Linked DNA regions of Homo sapiens: region 2 is linked to region 1. Evidence: fine-mapped expression QTL. A gene starts in region 1. The other region holds a variant in brackets. All regions are shown on one strand. Distances are between the middles of the regions.

The links. PIP is the estimated chance that this variant, and not a neighbour inherited with it, causes the effect. A credible set is the group of variants that fine-mapping cannot tell apart.
Region 2: its variant is the best candidate, but not a certain one, in a credible set for the expression of TCEAL9 in whole blood (TOPMed, PIP 0.56).

What each region holds. Positions count from the first base shown.
Region 1 is chrX:103,354,617-103,359,007 of GRCh38, reverse strand. TCEAL9 (transcription elongation factor A like 9) reads right to left here and starts at 2,502. Exons shown (of 3, transcript NM_016303.3): 1 at 2,402-2,502; 2 at 1,847-1,925; 3 at 546-1,393. The coding sequence starts at 1,323. The coding sequence ends at 1,009. LOC124905204 (a long non-coding RNA gene) reads left to right here and starts at 2,444. Exons shown (of 2, transcript XR_007068284.1): 1 at 2,444-2,554; 2 at 3,532-4,391. RefSeq lists an enhancer at 1,850-3,049.
Region 2 is chrX:103,457,905-103,462,295 of GRCh38, reverse strand. LL0XNC01-250H12.3 (a long non-coding RNA gene) reads right to left here. Exons shown (of 6, transcript NR_188440.1): 4 at 942-1,081. Among named protein-coding and RNA genes, the nearest start is that of LL0XNC01-250H12.3, 55 kb to the right of the region's middle. RefSeq lists an enhancer at 1,620-2,119. The variant A/G (reference allele first, on the strand shown) is at 1,958.

The DNA of each region.
Region 1 (4,391 bases):
TCTCGGCTCACTGCAAGCTCTGCCTCCTGGGTTCACACCATTCTCCTGCCTCAGCCTCCCGAGTAGCTGGGACTACAGGCGCCTGCCACCATGCCCGGCTAATTTTTTGTATTTTTAGTAGAGACGGGCTTTCACCATGTTAGCCAGGATGGTCTTGATCTCCTGACCTCGTCATCTGCCCGCCTTGGCCTCCCAATGTTGGGATTAGAGGTGTGACCCACCGCGCCCGGCCTTGGGTTTGTTCTTAATCACAGATAAGAACTACTTTCTCCACCCTTCCAAATCGCTGAAATTAATCTCTTACGGAGTTGGGATGGGAACAAAACTCTGTCAAACATAGCTCACAGTCATTACTCTATTTGGCCCTCACCAGATCCTTGTGAGATTATTTTCTTTATTTTAAAGATGAGAAAATATGTAAAATTTATTATTCTAGCTAAGTGGTCTGGAGTTACTTTCAAGTTCACATTTCTTCTAAAATTCTGTCAACAAATATTAAATGCCCCAATACTTTTAGAAATAAACTAATACGTGCTGCTTGTTGCTTCTTTTTTATAAAACTTTTATTATTCTAGCAATAATAATGTGTGTTAATTTTAGGAATATAGAAAATACAAACAAGCAAAAGGAGAAAAATCATTCATAATCCCACCACCGAGAGGCTGTACTTTCTTTCATCCTTCACAAGTTATGTCCATATATGTAATATACAAATGTACTTTTTACCTTTCAAAAATATGATATTCACATATTACTTAGCCTTTTTCCATTTTATATCTTACCAAGAACCTCTTTTTTACAAATGTGTAAAGTTCTTTTATTAAAAGACAGAGACTTGTAGATTGGTTCAAAATACAATAAACAATGAGATGCAGATAACAAGAGATACATCTAAAACCATTAATAGCAACAGGTTATAAGTAGAAATATGGACAAAGGAATATCAGGAAATGCTAATAAAAAGCAAGCTATATGGTATTGTTAATATCAGATAAAAATCAAGGTAAACTACATTAAATAGGGGTAAGGATGGTTTCGATTAACCTTCCAACGCATCACTATAAGTTTGTTTCTGACTCTCCTTATCTCATCTATTTCATCCACTTCTCTAAACATATCTTCATTGCTTAAATGCCTGTTGTGTATATCTTCTTTAAACTCCTGGAGAGATTGAATCAGCCTTTCTCTAAAAGTTCCTTTTGCTTTGGCCTCCTCCTCTAGCTTCTCCTCCTCTTCTGGCTTTTCCTCAGGCTTTGGCTCTTCCTCATGCTTTGGTTCACTCTCATTTTCTGGTTTTCCTTCCATTTTTTGACAGGATTTCATCTTGTATCTGTCTACCTCTCTTCCTTCCTTCTTTTCTTTCTTGCTTATTCTTCTTTGAATACAATGACTTCTAGAAAGCAAAAAGAAGACAGTAAGTTAAAGACTTGGTGAGTGGACAGGTGCTGTGGACAGAGGCCTTAGCATTTAATTTTTTTTATTCAGAGCTGTTATAAAATATCTTCCACCTAAGAAGCCCAGTCAGCAATCAGAGCTTCACTATCCCCACTCCTTTTACCTCCACTTTCCACCTCCTCACTTCTCTCTTGTCCTTCCCTCTAACCTTTTCCAAGGCCCTCCTTTCCGCCGTCCAGCCCTCCCCAGACCTTTTTCCCCCATAGGGCCTAACACAGGGACCAGGCCAGAAAAGAGAAAGGTGGCTGGCAGGCAGAGGAAGAGGGGAAAGGAGAAGGGGGAGAGAAAAGAAGAGGGGAAAGGGGTGGGGTGGAAGGGAGCCGGCAGGAACGGTGGCGCTTACAACCTTTGTCTCCACCCCAGGAGACTTTATAATATTCCTCTCACCTACCTGGCACTGATCGGGTCAGTTTCTTCCTCCTCCTTTTCTAGCTTTGGGTCTTGCTGGAAACAACAGCCCTGCAGATAAACTGGAAACGGGAGGGGACGGTGGGGGTGGGGCGAGCGCTTGGTGGGCCGACCAGCGCCAGAGACTGACACACGTAGCTTTCCTCCTTTAGGGTTTCGGATATGGAAAGTTTCCCACCTTTTGTTTCCCCTAGTTCACCCCCTCTCCACAGTGCATGCAAGTCAGTTCGTTTTTCCCATCAGACAAAGAGTGAGAAAGCAGATTATTTCCAAACTATCTTTAAGACTGAGGCGGGGTTCGGGAGGAGGGTGGGGGTCCGGAAAGCAGTCTTAGATAGCAGAGGATGATTATTTTTAAACTACCACAGGTCTCCCTGTTCTTCTCCTAGGACCCCTAGTCCCTTTCCCAAGGGTCATCAGTTCCCGTAGACCTGGAGGTGGAGGGTGGAGGGACGGACCTGACCGGCACTCCCACAAGTCTCTGCCTTAAACCCCCCCACACTAGAAATCCCCAGTCAACACCTACAGTGACACCAACCTGCAAAATTCCCGCAAGTTTGACTCCTTCCACGGGCCTCAGGGACCACCGCCTGCGCTGCTGAAGGAAGCTGGTATCCAGACGGGAACAAGGACCAGATTACCAGGACTTCTGCACACGTCGACTCCTGGTCACATGAGATCTACGTCACCAGTGAGCTCGGGTCCCTAATTTCCACTCCCACCAAAAGCGCGGCAGAAGTGGGCCCACCCTCTCTCCCTCCCCGCCCCCCACTTATACATTTGGCCCTGTCAGTCTTTTCTGTTGTTTCCTATCCCAGCGGGAAAAATGTTATTTGCTTGACTCTGATTACTAGGGAGGGGCTACCTCTTTTTCTGGAGCTACTGAACTTTTCTACTTCTTTCGAGAATTGTCTCTTCCATTCTTCCACTCCCAGGATAACTCCTCCATCAGTCGTCCCTCCTCTAGCCTCCATTTCCTCTGCAATCTGGTTCTTAGCTGTTGTAGAGCAGGGTGGCCTTGGCAGCAGTTGTGAAACAACAACAAAAAAAGACCCTGGAACAAGAGTGAGATTTCTGAATGCAATTTTTACTTTTTATTTTTCGTACTTCTATATCCTTTTTAAAAAGGTAACTTTAATCTCTCTCTCTCTCTCTCTCTCTCTTCTTTTTTCTGTCTTTCTTTCTCTTTTTTTTTTTTGAGACAGGGTCTCACTCTGTTGCCCAGGCTGGGTTGCAGTGGTGCGATCACAGCTCACTGCAGCCTCAAACTCCTCGAAACGAGTGATCCTCTTGCCTCAGACTCCCAAGTATCTGGGACTACAGGTGTGTGCCACCATGTCCAGCTAGTCTTTTAATTTTTTTGTAGAGACAGGGTCTATGTTCCCCAAGCTGGTCTCGAACTCCTGGGCTCAAGTGATCCTCCTGCCTCAACCTCCCAAAGGGCTGGAATTACAGGCCTGAGCCACTGCACTGGGCAACTTTTATCTTTTTATAGTCAGAAAAGACAAAGAAAAAATTACTTTAATGACATGAGTTAATACATGTACAGTGCTTATTGTACATGTGGCATATAGTAAGTGCTTTTAAAGTGAAAGCTGTTGTGATATTAGAAGTTTTGTGAGGAAAATGATACAGAATTTTTTAAAAAAGAGTAATGTTTCATTCCAGAGTCCTCATGGTGGTGTTACCAGGAAGCTGTGCTGCCTGAAGAATCATCAATTAATCGTCAGGTACACATTGTGAACCTGAGTTTCCTCATCTGAAAGAAGGGAATAATAGCATATGCTCATAGAATTGAGATCTATTGAAAATAAAAATAAGAGTTAATTTTTCATCTGTACAATTAGAAAAGACAAATATTGATTATATTCAGAGTTGATGAGCATATGGTAAAACAAATATTCACATGTACTGTGAGACTATTAAGTAGTACAACATTTTTGGAAGTCATTTTGGCAATATCAAACTTTAGAAGATATGTGCTTTTGGACACATCAATTCCTCTTCTAGAGATTTATCATACATTAATACTCCTATGCCAAATATGGTCATTGTAGTAGTTGTGGCAATAGTGTTTTTTTTAAAGAGCCAAAAACTTATATGTTTCTAAAAGGAAATTGGTTTAAGAAAAGTTTGATCATTCATATAGAGCCACATTATACAGTGATGAAAAAATGATGTGGAGTTACATTTACTCACATGAAAAAAATTGTTCAATGTATATTGTTAAACAAAAAAAGGCAAATTGAAAGTTAATTTTATATGTGGTATTACATTTTTGTAACAGTATACATATTTGTGTATTTAAAATATGAGTATACAATTAAATTACATGATAACATGATAAGTGAAGTCCAGAAATTCATTCTATAAAATTCCAGGTTATGTTACTGAGAGATGGATGGATGGAATGACTGATGTGAGTCTATTTGGCTAGCTGGCTACACAACCCAAATTCATCAAGGACTCAGCTGTGATTTGTTGCCACAAACAATTCTTCACTGAGCACTTGGACTTAAATATCATCC
Region 2 (4,391 bases), 100 kb before region 1:
ACTTGAGCTTTTCCCTGCTCTTGGAACACACGGTGCCCATGCACATTGTATACACACTGGCAAAAAGTCAGTCTGTGCCTAGCTTCTTTTTGTTATCCAGGACTCAGCTCAAATGTCACTTCCTGAAAAGGAGCTTCACTTACAACCCCATCTGTAATTATCTTTATCTTGGTCATTTAATACTCTATATGTGTTAAAACACAAATCCCCATATGAAATTACCCTGCTCATTGATCTGTTTACCTACTTATTACCAGTTTTCTCAAACTAGAAATGATATGTCCGGGGACCATGTTTGTCTTGTTCTCTGTGCTGTTTCCCCGGTGCTTAGATCAATGCTCCACACATAAATCACTGAATGAAAATTACTGAATTAAAGGAACTGGTACCTATTTCACAAAACAGAAATGACACAGATATTAAAAGCAAAGTAGTAGGAGCAACCAATGATGAAATTAGACATGAAAGGATTCAAATTTTTCATAGACCTTGTTGCAAATCCACAGCAGTGCTTTTCAAACATGGATGAGTACCACAACCAATTGGAAAAATTTCTCAAAATATAGATACCTGCCACCACATCTCCCTGTTTTTCATTCAGCTGACTTATGGTAGACCCAAATATCTACTATTTTAACAGGCAATCCATGATGATTTTGATGAAGTAGTCCACGAACCATACTTGGCAAAATTCTGATGAAAACACCTCACATTACTGTGCCATTAATTTAATGCCCACCATGGAGAACTCTAGGACATCTGGATTGTCTCTGTTAAGGTAATTACTCAAAAGTGACTGGTCCTTCCCTCCCACCTAAGATCACAGTTTGCTTTCCCATATGAGTTCATTGTTAATCTCCAGAGTATTCTTGAGTGGTCAGGAAGATTGGGAATTATTATCCTGTTGAATAGATGAGGCTGGTGTAAGGGAAGTGACTCACCTAATATGTCCCAATGATGAGACTTTCATCGCTTCACTCTTGCTCCAGTAGCCTGTCTAGCAGACTCCACATCACATTTGGTTTTTCTCTGTTAGCTCCTAGTTCTAGGGCACAGAGTACACCCCTTCTCTGATGTTACACTAGAAGGGAGATAAGAAAGCACATGGAATAGTGAGGAAAGAAAGAGGACAGGTAAGGAGGTTGTACGTGTGATGATGTTTTGCCTATACCCCATTCAGTTAACTGGAAGCTAAGCAATGAGGTTTTTCCTCTCCCTCAGCTTCATCTCACTGTCCCCACCACCACACAGCAGTGATACTCAAGATTGCACATGACAGGCTGGGCACAGTGGCTCACGCCTGTAATCCCAGCCCTTTGGGAGGCCAAGGTGGGCAGATCACAAGGTCAGGAGACTGAGACCGTCCTGGCTAACATGGTGAAACCCTGTCTCTACTAAAAATACAAAAAAATTAGCCAGGCATGGTGGCATGTGCCTATAATAGTCCCAGCTACTTGGAAGGCTGAGGCAGGAGAATCACTTGAACCCAGGAGGCAGAGGTTGCAGTGAGCCGAGATTGCATCATTGCACTCCAGCCTGGGCACCAAAGCAAGACTCCATCTCAAAAAAAAAAAAAAGATTGCACATAATAAGAAATGATAATAGAAATGTAGACTTAAGTCTTAGCCAAGATGGCCGAATAGGAACAGTTCCAGTCTACAGCTCCCAGCGTGAGCGACGCAGCAGATGGGTGATTTCTGCATTTCCAACTGAGGTACCAGGTTCATCTCACTAGGGAGTGCCAGACAGTGGGTGCAGTGCACCGTGCGTGAGCTGAAGCAGAGCAAAGCATTGCCTCACCCAGGAAGCTCAAGGGGTCAGGGAATTCCCTTTCCTAGTCAAAGAAAGGGGTGACAGAAGGCACCTGGAAAATTGGGTCACTCCCACCCTAATACTGCGCTCTTCCAATGGGCTTAACAAACGGCACACCAGGAGATTATATCCCGCACCTAGCTCG[A/G]AGGGTCCTATGCCCACGGAGCCTCCCTCATTGCTAGCACAGCAGTCTGAGATCAAACTGCAAGGTGGCAGTGAGGCTGGGGGAGGGGCGCCCGCCATTGCTCAGGCTTGAGTAGGTAAACAAAGCAGCCAGGAAGCTCGAACTGGGTGGAGCCCACCACAGCTCAAGCAGGCCTGCCTGCTTCTGTAGGCTCCACCTCTGGGGGCAGGGCAGACAAACAAAAGACAGCAATAACCTCTGCAGACTTAAATGTCCCTGTCTGACAGCTTTGAAGAGAGTAGTGGTTCTCCCAGCACGCAGCTTGAGATCTGAGAATGGACAGACTGCCTCCTCAAGTGGGTCCCTGACTCCCGAGTAGCCTAACTGGGAGGCAGCCCCCAGTAGGGGCAGACTGACACCTCACACGGCCGGGTACTCCTCTGAGACAAAACTTCCAGAGGAACGATCAGACAGCAACATTTGCTGTTCACCAATATCCACTGTTCTGCAGCCTCCGCTGCTGATACCCAGGCAAACAGGGTCTGGAGTGGACCTCCAGTAAACTCCAACACACCTGCAGCTGAGGGTCCTGACTGTTAGAAGGAAAACTAACAAACAGAAAGGACATCCACACCAAAAACCCATCTGTACATCACCATCATCAAAGACCAAAGGTAGATAAAACCACAAAAATGGGGAAAATACAGAGCAGAAAAACCGGAAACTCTAAAAATCAGAGTGCCTCTCCTCCTCCAAAGGAACACAGCTCCTCACCAGCAACAGAACAAAGCTGGATGGAGAATGACTTTGACGAGTTGAGAGAGGAAGTCTTCAGAAGATCAAACTACTCCAAGCTAAAGGAGGAAGTTTGAACCCATGGCAAAGAAGTTAAAAACCTTGAAAAAAGATTAGATGAATGGCTAACTAGAATAACCAATGCAGAGAAGTCCTTAAAGGACCTGATGGAGCTGAAAACCAGGCACGAGAACTACGTGACAAATGCACAAGCCTCAGTAACGGATGCGATCAACTGGAAGAAAGGGTATCAGCGATGGAAGACGAAATGAATGAAATGAAGCATGAAGAGAAGTTTAGAGAAAAAAGAATAAAAAGAAACGAACAAAGCCTCCAAGAAATATGGGACTATGTGAAAATACCAAATCTACATCTAATTGATGTACCTGAAAGTGACGGGGAGAATGGAACCAAGTTGGAAAACACTCTGCAGGATATTATCCAGGAGAACTTCCCCAATCTAGCAAGGCAGGCCAACATTCAAATTCAGGAAATACAGAGAACACCACAAAGATACTCCTCGAGAAGAGCAATTCCAAGACACATAATTGTCAGATTCATCAAAGTTGAAATGAAGGAAAAAATGTTAAGGGCAACCAGAGAGAAAGGTCGGGTTACCCACAAAGGAAAGCCCATCGGACTAACAGCTGCTCTCTCGGGAGAAACTCTACAAGCCAGAAGAGAGTGGGGCCCAATATTCAACATTCTCAAAGAAAAGAATTTTCAAGCCAGAATTTCATATCCAGCCAAACTAAGCTTCATAAGTGAAGGAGAAATAAAATACTTTACAGACAAGCAAATGCTGAGAGATTTTGTCACCACCAGGCCTGCCCTAAAAGAGCTCCTGAAGGAAGCACTAAACATGGAAAGGAACAACTGGTACCAGCCACTGCAAAAACATACCAAATTGTAAAGACCACTGAGGCTAGGAAGAAACTGCATCAACTAATGAGCAAAATAACCACCTAACATCATAATGACAGGATCAAATTCACACATAACAATACTAACCTTAAATGTAAATGGGCTAAATGCTCCAATTAAAAGGCACAGACTGGCAAATTGGATAAAGAGTCAAGACCCACAGTGTGCTGTACTCAGGAAACCCATCTCACGTGCAGAGACACACATAGGCTCAAAATAAACGGATGGAGGAAGATGTACCAAGCAAACGAAAACAAAAAAAAGCAGGGGTTGCAATCCTAGTCTCTGATAAAACATACTTTAAACCAACAAAGATCAAAAGAGACAAAGAAGGCCATTACATAATGGTAAAGGGATCAATTCAACGAGAAGAACTAACTATCCTAAATATATATGCACCCAATACAGGAGCACCCAGATTCATAAAGCAAGTCCTTAGTGACCTACAAAGAGACTTAGACTCCCACACAATAATAATGGGAGACTTTAACACCTCACTGTCAACATTAGACAGATCAACGAGACAGAAAGTTAACAAGGATATCCAGGAATTGAACTCAGCTCTGCACCAGGCGGACCTAATAGACATCTACAGAACTCTCCACCCCAAATCAACAGAATATACATTCTTCTCAGCACCACACCACACCTATTCCAAAATTGACCACATAGTTGGAAGTAAAGCACTCCTCAGCAAATGGAAAAGAACAGAAATTATAACAGACTGTCTCTCAGA